Linked DNA regions of Homo sapiens: region 2 is linked to region 1. Evidence: fine-mapped expression QTL. A gene starts in region 1. The other region holds a variant in brackets. All regions are shown on one strand. Distances are from middle to middle.

What was found. PIP is the estimated chance that this variant, and not a neighbour inherited with it, causes the effect.
Region 2: its variant is fine-mapped to the expression of CDKAL1 in whole blood (TOPMed, PIP 0.95).

Annotation. Positions count from the first base shown.
Region 1 is chr6:20,530,383-20,538,723 of GRCh38, reverse strand. CDKAL1 (CDKAL1 threonylcarbamoyladenosine tRNA methylthiotransferase) reads right to left here and starts at 4,267. Exons shown (of 16, transcript NM_017774.3): 1 at 4,150-4,267; 2 at 3,330-3,373. RefSeq lists enhancers at 4,069-4,148, 4,179-4,338.
Region 2 is chr6:21,229,829-21,238,169 of GRCh38, reverse strand. It overlaps CDKAL1 (CDKAL1 threonylcarbamoyladenosine tRNA methylthiotransferase), which reads right to left. Exons shown (of 16, transcript NM_017774.3): 16 at 5,766-7,322. The coding sequence ends at 7,131. It overlaps LOC107986578 (a long non-coding RNA gene), which reads left to right and starts at 7,111. Exons shown (of 2, transcript XR_001744021.2): 1 at 7,111-7,479. RefSeq lists an enhancer at 6,750-7,949. The variant A/T (reference allele first, on the strand shown) is at 4,334.

The sequences.
Region 1 (8,341 bases):
TAAATGAGAGAGGCTAGGACCAGGTAGTGCCTTTGGAATGCGGAAGAACTACTGACAGATCATGAATAATTAAATAACATTAATTAAAAGCCATATTTTTTAATTACACAATTTTGCCATCCCATATACAAGTGTGTATGGATCCACTGAAGAGAAATAGAAAGGAAAAAGAGGAATGAAAGGAATCCACTGCAATAGACATCCCATATCATTAGAGTTAGAGAAGCAGAAGTTGCTAAGCTTCTTATCTTACAGAGCTGGAGTCCACTGAAGCAAAAGGATTTGTACATTGATAGAGCTAGAAATCAGAACCTTGGCATCCTCTCAATACCATGCTCTTCCCACTATGGCTTTGCCTCACTGGCAAAGTACAAACAATGCAAGAATCTAATGTGACACTAATAAGTAACCACATTCCAGAAAACAATGCGTAAAGGAAAAACAGGCAGTTCACTTAAGAAATACAAATACCCAGAAAAGAAAAAAAAAAAAAGAGGAAAGAATGCTCAACCACACTAACAACAAGTATTGAAACAATAAGTTATTTTTCAGCTGCCTCACTGATACAAAGCTGACAAAAACTCTGTTAGCTGAAAGCACAGAAAAACTGGTACACCCCTTCTGGAGGGCAACCTGACAATTATACCAAACATATGTATATCCTTCGAGCCAGCAATTTCATTTGGAGATATTCACTCAAAAAAGATAAATATAACGCTGCATATCAGCATTATGTAGCATAAACCTGGCTGTATATCATAAGTACCTAAATAATCTCACTCATCACTATTAATAAGCTAAAGGTTTTACTTTGAACAAACTGATAGACTGATAGAGGGAATTGTTTAGCCTTCAGAAATTTTTAATTAAATCATATGGAAATGAAAGTTTGAGAATAAAAGGAAAGCAGCGTAATAGCTAAATGGAGCAAAAGGATCATTAAAAATTTTTCTCAAAGGTAGAGGAAATCAAATTTGATAAAGGGAATAAAAATAGAGTCAGTGAAAAGGAAAATACTCAAAATGATAGGAAGAAGGAGGATGCAATATCCTAGAGCAGTGGTTACTTACATAGGTGAGTTATTAGGGAGGCTTTTTTTTTTTTTTTTTGTAATTATGAGACAGAGTTTCACTCTTGCTGCCCAGGCTGGAGTGCAATGGCACGATCTCGGCTCACTGCAACCTGTGCCTCCTGGGTTCAAGCAATTCTCCTGCCTCAGCCTCCCGAGTAGCTGGGATTACAGGCACCTGCCACCACGCCCAGCTAATTTTGTATTTTTAGTAGAGACGGGGTTTCACCATGTTGGTCAGGCTGGTCTTGAACTCCCAACCTCAGGTGATCCACCTGCCTTGGCCTCCCAAAGTGCTGGGATTACAGGCGTGAGCCACTGCACCCAGCGGGAAGCTTTTCATCATATCAAATCTCCAGGTTCCATTCTGAATTAGAATCTCCAAGAGTAGAACTGAAGTATGTGAACATAGAAACTGTCCAGGTAATTCCACTATAGATCCCTAATTAAGAACCACGATTCCACAGTAATGGTTCTCAATCTTCAACACTCATTCTATTCACCTGAAGAGCTTTTGAAAATTCCCAACTAAGCTTGCAGTGAGCCGAGATCACGCCACTGCACTCCAGCCTGGGCGACAGAGCGAGACTCTGTCTCAAAACAAAAACAAAAACAAAAGAAAAAAAAGAAAATTCCCAACTAAGCCCCAAGATAGCTGAATGAATCTCTGAGAATGGAGCCTGGGCATCAATATCTTTTAAAAACTTTCCAGTCATTCTCATGTGTGTACAGCCACAGTTGCAAAGCAATGTCCAGTGGTTTTCAAAGTGTAGTTTCCACATCAGCTGGAGTAGCATCATGGGGAACTTGTTAGAAATGAACATTTTTTCTTTTTCAGTTTTTTTGTAAAAACAAGGTCTCGCTTTGTTGTCCAGGCTGGTCTCAAACTCCTCCCATCTTGGCCCCTAAAGTATGGGATTACAGGCATGAGCCACCATGCCCAGCCAGAAATGAAAATTCTTGAACTCCACTCCAGACATACTAAATCAGATATTTTGAGTAAAACCTAGCAATATTTAACAGGCCCTCTAGGTGATTTTGATCTGAATTAAAGTTTGATAATCACTGTCCCAGAATTATTCTTTCATAAAAACCACCTAGAATGTATGTCAAATATACATAACCTAGACAATTCAAGGGGGAAAGCGTAGTTTTTTTTTCAACAAATGACACTGGGATAACTGGATAGCAACATGTAAAAAATAAAGTTGGAGCCCTATTTCACATTTCACATCATATACAAAAATTAACCGAAAATGGATCATAGACCTAAATTTAGGAGCTAACATTATGAAACTCTTAGAAAAAAACATAAGCACAAATCTTTATGATGTTAGAGTAGGCCCTTCTTTCTTAGCTAAGAAATGAAAAGCACAAGCAACAAAAGGAAAAACAGATTAGATGAAGAAGATACAGAAATGGGCCAGGTGCAGAGGCTCATGCCTATAATCCCAACACTGGGAAGCCAAGGTGGCAGGATCACTTCAGGCCAGGAGTACAAGGCCAGAGCCTAGGCAACACGGACCCTATCGCTACAAAAAAAAAAAAAAAAGTAAAATTTAGCCGGGCATGGTGGCATGCACCTGTAGTCCCAGCTACTTGGGAGGCTGAAGTGGGATCACTTGAGACCAGGTGGTCAAGGCTGCAGTGAGCCGTAATCGAGCCACTGCACTCTGGCCTGGGTGGCATAGGGAAGCCGTGTCTCAAAAACACACACATACAAATGGCTGATAAGCACATGAAAAGATGTCAACATCATGAGCCATCAGGGAAATGGAAATCCAAACCACAATAATACACCACTTCATACCCATTAGGATGGGTAGAATCAAAAAGACAAATAACTGTTGACAGGCATGTGGATTACATCACCCAGAGGGGAAGAAAAAGAGAACAGAGGTAGGAGAAGGTACAAGACCACGACTTGAGAGACTCCAAATTTAACTGCCAGATAAAGGAAAATCAGCTTATAATGGATTCCAAGAAGCAGCCACCAGACAAGGAAAAAAATCCATGGGCCATGGAAGGCAAATGAAAAGGGCATCTCAAAAAAGTGGACATGGTCAATGCTGGTGAATGAAAATGAAAGGTTAAGTAAAATAAATGAAAATATCTCTTCGATTTAATGCTATGTAAAGCACAATGTTTCCATAACATGATAGTGGCAAATAGCTAAAACATTAGGCTACCTCTCTGCATTTTCTAACATGCAGAAATACGCACAGCACTCAAACATAAAAGGTTTAAAATAAATCAGTACCTTAATTATCTGCAATTAGTCTAAAGTCCTCTTGAAAGATGAGTCTGGAAAATAAAAATTGATTAGGAAAAGTAAGCACCCAAAAAGTTCACAAAACCACTGTAAGGATTCTTTACTTAAAAGGAATCAGACTCCATAAAAGACTGCTTTATACAGCAGGATTAATGATGCTCCATACTACTTGTAACTTCTTACTGATTACAACAGGTGTGCTGACATCTGCCGTGACGGTGATCCAGTGTCTGGCTTTAGTAATAAATGTTGTATTCAGCACCGCAACACGTCTGCATAGTGCGAGTAACCAACCACTACAAAACAGGATTAAGTCAATAAGGTAGATAGACATCCAGATCACGTTCCATCCGAAAGATAACTGTCGTCCCGAGATTCAGAAAAAGGTTTTATGAGCAAAGAAGAACGAAAAGTGAAAAAGCAAGACACCTGCTTTTCTCAATAACTTCTGCTTAAATTCTTAACATACTGATCTGGGAAAGCTATATAACTGCGAAAGCCTTGTCACATCTACAAATTCACTAAGGTATAAAGTGGGAGAACAAATGAAGTTAAACCTGACAATAAGGAACGAGGTGCCTAAAATACTCCTAACTGGAGAGCGGCACCTGAGGCCAACGACCCTATCCTCGCTCCTGGAAGCCCCATCTGCCTCCCAATTCCCCCATCCCAGCTGGCAAATCCCCTTTTAACTGCGAAACAAATTTGCAAACAGCCCAAGAAAAACTGAAACTGGAGAAACAAGGCTTGGCCATAAAAGGAGCTGTGGCCACACTCTGCCCCACATGGACCCATCGGCCACCCTTACCCAGAAGTCGGGAAGTAAAAACCAGTCCAAAGTGAGAAAATCAACCCGCCACTCTCCGGAAGCTGCACAGACTTTAGATGGAGAGCGCCATGACACATACGTCCCGCCACGTTTATTTGCGCATGCTCAGCGACGGTGGCCCGAAGAGATCAAATTACATCATTGCTGAAAGCGCTAGTTCTGGTTTAACTTAGTTTAGGAATGACTACGCTTCAAGTTCCTTTGATTCCAAGAACTAAAATAACAACCCTGAGTCCTCGGGTTCCTAGAAATGCTTAATAGCCAACTTCTCCTAAGCTTTTATGTGTTAGACACTGTGCTAAGTACTTTGCATAAATATTATTCACTATTTATTTATTATTATTATTATTCCCAGTTTACAAAAGAGGACACTGGAAGTTTAAGGACTTAATCTAAGTTACTCTACTAGTCGTGCTGCGCTCTGGGCTGGATCCGATGCTGTCTGACTCCCAAAGAACTTGCTCTTTTCACTGCATTTTACTAGCCTCCTCAATCATTTGTGAAAAGAGGTCTCTTCTTTAATATTAAAAAAACAGGAAGGAAAGGATAAAGGTCAGTTGGTAGGTTTCACTTAATATACATCATTGAGCACCACACAAGTGTTTTTGTTTTTTGTTTTGGAAAACTTAGATGGCAGTTTAGCAGACACCTATGGAAAGAAAATACTTTTATGGAGTACGGATTCTCACCCGCTTTCTCTACATATGTTATCTCACTTTACTATTCGTTACCCAAGACACTGTATTTGACCATGTGTTTACCAGAAGAATATCTTTACTTGAAAAAGTAAAGGTAATAGGAGGCAATAGGCCATGAAGAAGGGTCAGAAATCGTGAGTTTTATGCCTGACTTAGGGTTTCATAGTGATTTGGGGCAATTACTTTGTTTTGCAAATGCCTTTCCTAGTACAATTTCATCTAATTAAAATGCCATCCATCTACTCAAGAGGCTGATGTGGGAGGATCACTTGAGCTCAGAAGTTTGAAAACAGCCTGGGCAACACAGTGAGACCCAGTCTCTAAAATAGATTTAAAAAAAAAAAAAAAAACCACCCTTTTCTCTGTTTATCCATATCCATAAAATAATCTAAACTGTGCCCTGGGGTCCACTGTTGTCTTTACCCACCTAAATTAAAATTGTGTATTTATGTTGCCCTACTTTTTTTTTTTTTTTTTTTTTTTTTTTAGATAGGGTCTTCTTCTGTCACCCAGGCTGGAGTACAGTGTTACCATCACAGCTCACTGCAACCTCTCCCTCCTAGCCTCAAGAGATTCTCATGCCTTAGCCTCCCAAGTAGCTGGGACTACAGGTGCACACCACCATACCCATCTAATTCCATCTCTTTCACTAGACCAAAAGTAGGCCCTGGGTTATCTTCTTGGTTGTAATCGCACTACCTAGCACATAACCTTGTGCCTATGTTTATAGCTTCTCAATAAACATATGTTGAATGAATGAATGAATGAATGAATGACTCCACCCCTTTTCCCCCAAGATCTAGTTGAGTTCAGTAAAAGATATTTTACTGAGTATGTACCCCATGACCACAAGCACTGTGATAGATGCTAGAGCTAAAAAGAAAGAAAAAAAGTACTGCCTATTGCAATTGCAGGCTATTTTGAAAAAATTCATTTCAGTAGAGAATAGCAATCACTATGAAAGATGAATGCACAGGAACACAAAGGTGAAGTAAGGGAAATGGATGAAGGCATTCCAAGCTGGAGAGTCAGCCAGAGCAAAAGCAAGGAGGCCTGAAATGATGAATTATTCCACAGTGTAAAAGCAAAGAGAGTGAAGCTGGTGATGGGAGAAGTCTACCAGAGAAAGGGAAGCACAGGGACTAGATCAAGGTGAACCTTGTGTATTCAAAGGCATTAGACTTAATCCTGGATGTATGTAGTAGGCAACATGAATGTGTTCGAGCAGATTATTCTCTCAGGACAATGGGTTTGAGGACGATATTTCAGACATGAAGAAATAGTAAAAGCCTAAATTGAGTTGTTGGCTGGGAGGAATGGGAAGGAAGGACAGATTTAAACAAATTGAGGAGGTAACAGCAGCAAGACTTGGTGATTGATAGGTACGAAAAAAGAGGAAGAAAGGATGTTTTCAAGTTTTGGCTACAAAAACTAACTAACAGGTGAAACCTCTCTCTTTAAGCACCTTTAGTCTAAATCCTTTGAAGTCAGTAACCCTACCTCTAGGAATTTATCTTACAGAAATATACATAATGACCTATGTTCCAGAGTATTTTTTGAAGCATTGCTTACAATGACCTATGTTCCAGAGTATTTTTTGAAGCATTGCTTACAATGACCTATGTTCCAGAGTATTTTTTTAAGCATTGCTTACAATAGCAAAAGACTGGAAACCCTCTCCGGCTCCTCCTCAATAGAGTATTGGTTAAATATATTTATAGTATCTGTACAACCTTTGAAAAGCAACCAGTAAGTCCGGGTGCAGTGGATCACGCCTGTAATCCTAGCACTTTGGGAAGCCGAGGCGGGTGGATCGCCTGAGGCCAAGAGTTCAAGACCAGACTGACCAACATGGTGAAACCCTGTCTCTACTAAAAATACAAAATTAGCTGGGTGTGGTGGCATATGCCTGTAATCCCAGCTACTCAGGAGGCTGAGGCAGGAGAATCTCTTGAACCCAGGAGGTGGAGGTTGCAGTGAGCGGAGATTACACCATTGCACTCCAGCCTGGACAACAAGAGCGAAACTCCATCTCAAAAAGATTAAAAAAAAAAAAAAAAGGCCAGGCACGATGGCTTACGGCTGTAATCCCAGCACTTTGGAAGGCTAAGGTGGGCGGATCACGAGGTCAGGAGATCAAGACCATACTGGCTAACATGGTAAAACGCTGTCTCTACTAAAAATACAAAAAATTAGCCAGGCATGGTGGCATGAGCCTGTAGTCCCAACTACTCGGGAGGCTGAGGCAGGAGAATCGCTTGAACCTGGAAGGCGGAGATTGCAGTGAGCTGAGATCGCGCCACTGCACTCCAGCCTGGGCAACACAGTGAGACTCCGTCTCAAAGAAAAAAAAAAATAATGCTTTGTTTCTTAAATTAGAGTTAAGCTTCATAAATATACACCATCCTATTTTGTTCCTGTTTTTTCAGCCAACAATATAACACTAAATGCTTTATAAATATTTGGTAATAAGTAAACAAACCAATTGGTGTATACCAAGAACATTAAAAATGCAAGTAAATCTATAAAATAATAGTAAAGCTAAGATTTTTTCAAACACTTATAAATGTGTGCCAATAACCACCCATAAGTAACCCTATAAATGAGGAGTGCTATTATTATCTTGTTATCTCTTTTAACAGAGAAGAAACCTAAAGCTTAGGCAGTCTGACTTCAGTTGTTTTAACAACTCTATATGAATACTTCAGAAGAAAGCAACAATAGTGCAAAATTTCAAATAGAGAAAAAGCATTGGAGAGAAAAAACAAAAGAGTGATCAAGGAAAAGTGGAATAAAATCTGTTTGCCTGGACCGGGCACAGTGGCTCATGCCTGTAATCCCAGCACTTTAGGGGGCCGAGACAGGTGGATCACGAGGTCACAAATTCAAGACCAGCCTGGCCAAGATGGTGAAATCCCGTCTCTACTAAAAATACAAAACTTAGCCGGGCGCGGTGGCAGGCACCTGTAGTCCCAGGTACTCGGGAGGCTGAGGCAGGAGAATCGCTTGAACCTGGAAGGTGGAGGTTGCAGTAAGCCGAGATCGCGCCACTGCACTCCAGCCTGGGTGACACAGTGAGACTCCATCTCAAAAAAAAAAAAAAAATCTGTTTGCCTTAAATATTTTATGTTGGCCTTCACAGTAAAAATTGAAGAGAAAATATGGACAAGAAAGAAGTTACACAATTCTTACCCTCTCAGTGACTAATCAATAAAGAATAAAATATGAAAATTATAAAAATCTGGGGCCAGGCACGGTGGCTCATGCCTGTAATCCTAGCACTTTGGGAGGCACAGGCAGTTGTTTCACTTGAGCCCAAGAGTTTGAGACCAGCCTGGGCAACATGACCAGACCCTGTCTCTACAAAACAAACAAAAAAGTAGCCGGACATGGTGGTTCCAGCTACTCGGGAGGCTGAGGTGGGAGAATCACTTGAGCTCAGAAGGTCCAGTTTGCAGTGAGCCGAAATCACA
Region 2 (8,341 bases), 700 kb before region 1:
ATTACATATGTGAGAATTTATTTCTGGGCTTTCTACTCTAGTCCTTTGGTCTCTGTCTGTCCTTAAGCAGGTATCACAGTTGTAGTTACTGTAGCTTTGTTGGAAGTTTTGAAGTTGGAAAACATGAGTCCTCCAGTTTTAGTCTACTTTTTAGAGATTGTTTTAGCTATTTGGGGTTGCCTGTGATTCCATATGAGTTTGAGGGTTGGCTTTTCCATTTTGGTAAAACAGGCTGTTAGAATTTTGATAGAGAGTGTGTTTAATCTGTAGCTCACTTTGGGTAGTATTAACATCTTAATGCTAAGTTTTCCTATTAATGAACATACGATACCTTTCCATTTTTCAGATATTCATAAATTTCTTTCAGCAATGATTTTTAGTTTTCAGCATACAAATCTTTTACCCCCTTAGTTAGATATATTCCTAAGTGTTTAATTTGTTTAGCTGCTATTGTAGATGGAACTGCTTTCTCAATTTCCTTTTCGGATTGTTCATTGCTAGTGTAAAAAAACACAAATGAATTTCTTTTTTTGCATTGGTCTTATAGTCTGTAACTTTGCTAAATTCATTTATTAGCTCTAGTTGCTTTCCTGTGGTTTCTTTGGGATGCTTTATACATATGATCATGTAATCTGCAAATAGAGATAGTGTTACCTACTCCTTTCCAATTTGATGCCCTTTACTTCTTTTTGTTGTCTAATAGTTCTCACTAGAACTCCCAGTACAATGTAAACAGCAGTGGTGAAAGCAGGCATTGGGCTTTGGAATCAGACTGTCTAGTATAACATCTATTGGTTTGTGATTAATTGGGCATATTAAAAGCAGATTAGATAAACCTCGGAGTTAAAAACTCATACTTCTTTAGGTTTTTCTGAACTCCAAGTTTTCCTTTACCTTGACCCAAGGTTGTTCTCCTCCATCCCCCTGCTTTTTTTTTTCCTGAGAACTTGCATCATTAGTGCTCAGAAATGTATTCAGATACCCAGAAGCTAGGAAGATCATGAGACACCAAGTGACATCCTTTGCTTCAGCTTCTACACCGTTGAGATATTTTGGCTATAGAACTCTAGGAAACAGTACTGGGAGAAAATAATTGACAGAAAACTAATCAAGAATAATAGTGTCTGCATTTCCTTTTAGTCTCAAAGCAGGATGGGGGAGGGCATGACTTCTAGGCCTCCCTATTAATCTGGTTGCTCTTTTCATCTTTGGCCATGGAAAATCTCCTTCTTGATCTTAGATTGGCCACCCAAATCTGTGCTCCACACTATTCATTAATTTGATCTCCTCAAATACAGCTGCAGTCCATTGCCTTTGAATTTTTCTTCCTTTGCTGCATTTGTTAGAATCAGACTCTATCTCTCTCAAGGTAGGAATCTTTTTATTCCATATATAAATCTTTTGGGTGGTCATGTGTTGATATCAGAATTTAAAACACCTAACTTTATTTATAAAGGTATTTTTCACCTTTAAGTGGCTACAGTAATCAAAAAAGAGGAGGAAATGTCATGTGTCAAGAATACAGTATTTTATATGCATGAGTTCACTTATCTTTCAATGACCCACAATGGAATCTTGTTCCTGTTTTAGAGATGTGGCTCAAAAAGAAAAAGTGGTCTGGCTGGAATTTAAAGTTTTGCTGATGTCAAAAATCTCATGGTCTTTCCTTATATTTTCTGCCTCAAATTTGTATTGGAAACAACTGAGAGCTGAATCCAAGTGATTCTGATTGTTAACTCCTTTACAGTTTCAACATCATAAAAATCAAACTCAACGGCAAGTCCAGTGTAAATTTATCAAACACATGCTATGGATAATCTAACTTTAAAGTAAGGGGAAAATATTTTGAGAAGGGATTAGGACTCCAGATTATAAGTTTGACATGGATCCTTTAAATTAGGTTGTATCATAGAGCAGAGGTTTTCAAACTTTCTTGATTGTTTGTACCCCTAGGCCAAAAGCAGCAGCTAACCTTCTGTTTAAATAGGTAATCCTGACAACTGAATAAGCATTTATATCCTACTATCTTATGAGAACCGTTTGAAAAAATAATACATGTAACTTAGATAAAAATATTAATATTTTATTTCATATTAATTTTACTTATTAATGGCAGCTGTGCATCTGTTGGGTACAGCACCCCTTCTCAAACCTTGGACTATGATCACAATTTTCACTTCTTGTTCCACATTGATTTTCACTTGATACTTGCTTTTTATCACAGCAATTGCTGAAAATCCAGTTTTATAAAGACATGGTGTCATCAAAATTTGTGAAATCTAACGTTGAAAACTGTGAACTATTTTGAGCTGGTAGTTGGCCTGGTATCTGACAGATGTTGCTGTGTTCCCTCCAAAAATTTAAGGAATCCCAGGGTGCTCCTGTGAATGTGCCACAGCATCCTGGGGTGCCTGGGGGGACCAGCAAACCTTTTAGAAAACGTACATATTCATTTTTTATTGTGAGTATTTAAGGTGAACATGTATTGATACACATATACACAGCAAAATGGTGGCTACAGTCAAGTGAATTACCATACCCATCATCTCATATGATTACCTTTTTTGTTGTTGCTGCAAGCCTTAAGAATATCTTTTCTCCTTTTCTTTTTCTTCCTTTTCTCTCCCCTCCTTTCTTCTCTTCCCTCCCTCTCTCTCTTCATTTTTTTCCTATGTTTGTTTTATGATGACAAACCCTCTTGAAGCTTGATTTGTAACTCTAATTCTCCCTCCATGACATCTTACAATATACACTGAAATTTTCAACCTGGAGTGAAGTCAGTAGAAGTAGTATATGTTTTGACTGAATGACATATGGAAATCTGATGTTTAGACACATTTTCCCAGCAACAAAGCAAAGTTTTAACCCAAGAATTCTTTACATTCTCAAACTGACTATCTCATGCTGGGATGATAAGAAAGGAAGCAGGGATGATAAGATGAAGCAGGGACAATAGAAAGGAGGGAAAGAAAGAAGGAAGGAAGGAGGGGGCAGGGCAAAGAAAAAAGCTTGATTAGTAAATCTTTATTTAAAAAGTATATCAAGTACCATGCACATTCTTGGAGCAGGACAACACAGACTGAAAGGCTGAAGGCCCCCAAGCTCAGGCATCCACAGGATTGATCCTAAATGTGTATCTGTTGGCACAGGTCAAGTTTAAGTCAAAGATGGGACAGAGGAGCAGGAGGAGTTTACAGAAGAGGAGTATATGCTTTGGAGTCAGGCTGTGTACCAGTCCTGCCTCTAAACTTAAGAGCTCTGTGCCTCTTGCACAAGTTACTTAGTCTTTTGAGTTTTAGATTTTCTTCTCAGTATGATGGGAATCACAATACGTATCTCAAAATTTTTTCTTCAGGACTGATTAACACCTGTTAAGTGCAAAGTATAACATCCAGTGCATTTCATTTAAGGACTAGACAGTTAATGGTTGTCAATATTATCATTACTATTAAAATAGGAATGACTTGTGGAAGGGAGACAGCAGAGACAAGGTCTGCTGAAGAATATCTAAGGTCCAAAGAGAAAAAATAGTGGGAGAATGACAGAATTCATGTCAACTGCTGGTGGGGATGTAAATTGGTACAACCACTTCAGAAAACCATTTAGCAGTATCTAAGCTGAACATATGCAAATGCTATGACCCAGCAATTCCACCCCTAGACATGTACTCCTCACATCATCACATAAACACTTAACAAAACGTGTTTATAGCAGCATTATTCATAATAGACAAAAAATTGGAAAGAACTCAAATGTAGAATGAACAATGTGGTGTACTCATACACTGAAATACTATTCAGCAATGAACGTGAAGTAATTACTGCTCACACAATAATCTGGATGTGTCTCACAATCACTGTAGAACAAAAGAAGGTAGACATGAAATAGTGCATACTACATGATTCCACTTATAGAAAGTTTAGAATCAGGCAAATCAATCTGTAATGTTAGAAATAAGGATACTGGTTACTCCTTGCGGGGCAGACTTAATGGCTAGGAGGGTACATGGGGAGCCTCCTGGTGCTGGCTACAATGCTTGCTCAGTTTTTAAAAATCCCTGTATCCCTATGATTTATGTCCATTTCATATGTATGTTTTATTCTAGTAAAGAGTTTAAGAAAAAAATTGGCCAAAGCATTGAAAAGATCACTTCATAGGTTTCCTTCTCAGCAGAGAAGTACACACACACACACACACACACACACACACACACACACCCCTTGATACTAATGCAAAGCATACAAAAGCATACAAAGAAAACATAACAATTACATTTACAATCTGCGGGTCAAGCATCCTATCACGGCTGACACTTCGTATAAATCAGGTTACG[A/T]ATGCTACGGCTACGACCCCCAGATGCCGGTGGCTTAACACAACCACAATATATTTCTGGTTCCTGATGCCTATGTAGCACATGCTGGCCAGGAGCCCTACTCAACTGTACTAACTCAGGGACCCAGGGTCGGGGAGGCGTCATTCTGACATATGGGTCCAGGATCACCACAGCAGTGGGAAGAGCACACAGTAAACCGTACACCAGCTCTGAACATGTCTGCCCCGAAGAAGGACGTGACCCTTCCGCTCACATTTCACATTTCGTGCCTAACTTCAGCGGGGCGGGAGAAGCGCAGTTGCACTGTGGGCAGGAAGGAGACAGGCTGGAAAAGTAACAGCTCTACTCATGATCACACTTGCTCCCGTGGTTCCCAGACTCAGCCCCATTCAGAGTCCAGGGCTTAAGAAAACTGTTTTTAACTTGCACTGCATCCTTCTCTGCTCTCTCCCTCCCCCTCCCTAGAGATGGAGGTCACAGGGGGAAGAAAAACCCTGGATTTCCAGAACACTGCTACCCCTCTCACCAATTGGTCGCCAGTATGGAGACTGATTTCATGAAGGTCCAGCGTCTGCTGCGGGCAGTGACCTCGGTCCCTTTCTGGGTCAAACGGCAGAGTGAAGCTGCAGCCAAATTGAGGGTAAATAACAGTCACAGCAGGAAGTAGGGAGAATCCTGTACAGCTGAAACGATCCTTGAGGATCCCTGCCATGGTAGGTGAGAGCAGCAGGGGGGGAATTTGGATGACTGGGTGTATCATTCTCTTACAGGAAGAAAAAAATGAAAAAAGGCGAGGACAGCATAGAGCTAGAAGGGAGGAAATAAACAGATGAGGGAGTGAGGAAAAGAGTAGGGAAAGAGAAAAGGGAGGTAGAAAAAATCCTTTTTGTCTCCAATCAGTTACAGGTGTAAAGCTTTCTCTATGTCTGATCTAGTGCAACTCTAGGCTTTGGATGGCATTTTTATCTCTGCTAGGTTTTTGTTAAATGAGCACCACACTGGAACCCACTGTTTATTAACAAAGAAATGACTGCGTAGAGCTCAAGAAGGGAGGCACATGGTAGGTTCTTGTCCTCTTCTCATTCCTGCTAAGAAGTGAGGGGTGCTCCCAAGTGGATGTTTCACTGCAGGACTAGAAGCAGCACAGGAGGATTTTTGCATTCTAAATGTGAGCACCTCTTAGAAGCACATACCAGTTCCAGGAGAAATGTACTAACACTAAAAGCATATATATTTTATAATTTACCAACTAGGACATGACTGAATTTTAATTTGGGTTCCTTAAAAGACACACAAAACACAAACATTTTGAGTTAAATGTAAGAGCTGAAGAGGGGTATGGGTTTCGAGATGGAAAATATCCTATGGTAACTACACGGTACCTGGTTTTCCTGTACCTATGCAATCCAAATAAATTCTCAAAAACATAGGATTTGCTTAGTATACCAATTCTATTTATTGTTAAAGAAAGAAGTCACTTCACTTAGTAAAGACCAATGATGGCAGGTAGAAATAAAAACATTTAATCTGGGCTGGGTGGAGTGGCTCACGCCTGTAATCCCAGCACTTTGGGAGGCTGAGGCAAGAAGACTGCTTGAGGCTAGGAGTTCCAGGCAAGCCTGGGCAACATAGTGACACTCATCTCTACAAAAAATTAAAAAATTAGTTGGGCATGGTGGTATATGCCTGTAGCCCCTGGCTATTAGGGAGGCTGAGGTAGGAGGACTGCTTGAGTCCAGGAGGTCAAGGCTGCAGTGAGCCAAGATAGTGCCATTGCACTCCAGCCAGGGTGACAGAGTGAGACCTTGACTCAAAAAAAAAAAAAAACAAAAACAAAAAAAAAACCCCAATGGATCAAAAATGTGAGAAAATGGGCACAATTAGTTTTCGACAAATCCAGTTTTCCAGTTTCATATTTCACAGAATGTTGCCAGGAGTCCTTTAGCTGGCAGACTCTCCCCGTGCATTCCAAAAGCATTCAGGTTCCCAGAACAGGTTTCTATACACTTTTCAGGAACACATCTGCTGTGAAAAATACAATGTTTGTAGCACTGGGACTCCAAACAAAGCCTGAAGGGGAAGATGCACTTAAAAATATTTATTAAAGAGGCCGGGCGCAGTGGCTCACGCCTGTAATCCTAGCACTTTGGGAGGCCGAGGCGGGCGGATCACTTGAGGTCAGGAGTTCGAGACTAGCCTGGCCAACATGGTGAAACTCCGTCTCTACTGAAAACACAAAAAAATTGTCTGGGCTTGGTGGCGCATGCCTGTAATCCCAGCTACTTGGGAGGCTGAGGCAGGAGAATCGTTTGAACCCAGGAGGCAGAGGTTGCAGTGACCTGAGATCGTGCCACTGCACCACTCCAGCCTGGGGGACAAGAGCGAAACTCCATCTGGAAAAAAAAAACAAAGAAAAAGTTTATTAAAGATAGAAAATTCTTCCACATGAGGAAAAGATGGCCAGAGCCACTGTACAATTAGGTTCTGACTTAAAGATTAGAGATTGAAACAAACAGAAAAAAATGCAACCGCTTGCATTTCTTGCTAAAAGTAAACCAAAAGCAGTTTAATTTGAAGGATGTGCTATGGTAGCGGTGATTAGGTTTTAGGTCAAATAACCAATGGGCCCAACTCAATGTGAGACAGGGGGAGCCTCATTAAGAAGAGTGGCTGAGAAGGAGGCAGCATGACCAGTACAAATTATTGCCCTTGGAGAATGGAGATGTCGCTTTCCTGTTCATTGAAGATTTTAATTAGAAATGTATTCTTCTTTATAGATGTTTCCATTAGTTGTATTCTAATTATAGACCTTGACAAAAAAAGCAAAAAGAAGACCCAGCAGAGCCAAGCCCACGGACATCCTCAGCGCACAGTCTTGATGTAGCCTTGGCATGGGCAGCACCATTCTGGAACTCGCTGAGTCACACTGAGATGCAGCAGAGGTGTGGGATCCTGAACTCAGCTGGTTCCCAAGCCCATTTCTGAAGTCCTATAAAGAGAGAAACAGAGGAAAAAATTATTTTTAGATGCAGAGAAAGCCCTGTTGTGATATCAATCAAGCAATGGGTTCCAGAAGGTGCCGCCTTTTATGTACTCCTTCAACAGAGACACGTTTGAACACCCACCATGGGCCAGGTGGCCCCAAGGTAGGTATGAATGAGTCAGTTCCTTTCCTTGAAGGGCCAGGCCAAGTTCATGACTCCAGACTACACATAAACTGTATGAGAAAGACGGGCCGTGTTTATAGAAAATCAAGGCAGAATTCATGAAGGGTAGAATCTGTGTAAAGTGGAGTCATACCACAGACATATTTAACTCTTAGAGAGATGCAACCATATCTTCTCAGCAATGGAAGAATGACAAAGAAACACCATGGGCCAGGTGTGGTGGCTCACGCCTGTAATCCCAGCACTTTGGGAGGCCAAGGCGGGCTGATCACTTGAGGTCAGAGGTTTGAGACCAGCCTGGCCAACATGGTGAAACCCCGTCTCCACTAAAAATATAAAAATTAGCTGGGTGTGGTGGCAGGTGCCGGTAGTCCCAGCTACTCTGGAGGCTGAGGCAGGAGAATTGCTGGAACCTGGAAGGTGAAGGCTACAGTGAGCCAAGATTGCGCTGCTGCACTCCAGCCTGGGCAACAGAGTGAGACCCTGTCTCAAAAACAAACAAACCAACCAACAACCATGGAAGCCATGATTCAGCAAACACATCCCTAGGACAAAGATTCCCAGCTGGTCTGCTGCCACAGGAGGGCTGCGCCAAGAGTGACCCACCCCACATAACCCCACACTCAGTCCCCTCAAAGTACCTTGTGTGCCATACAAATACTATCATCATTTTCTCTTCATGCCAGATAGAGAACAGGTTGGGAAACCCTGCTTGGGCAGAGCTGAGAAGCTGGGGACCTGACTGTGCAGCTTTTCTCAGTGGTTTCTGTTCACCGGCTTCTTAGCTGGTGTCCAGGGAAGCGGAGAGAGGAGCACCTGGCTATTGTCAGGGTGGCTCTAG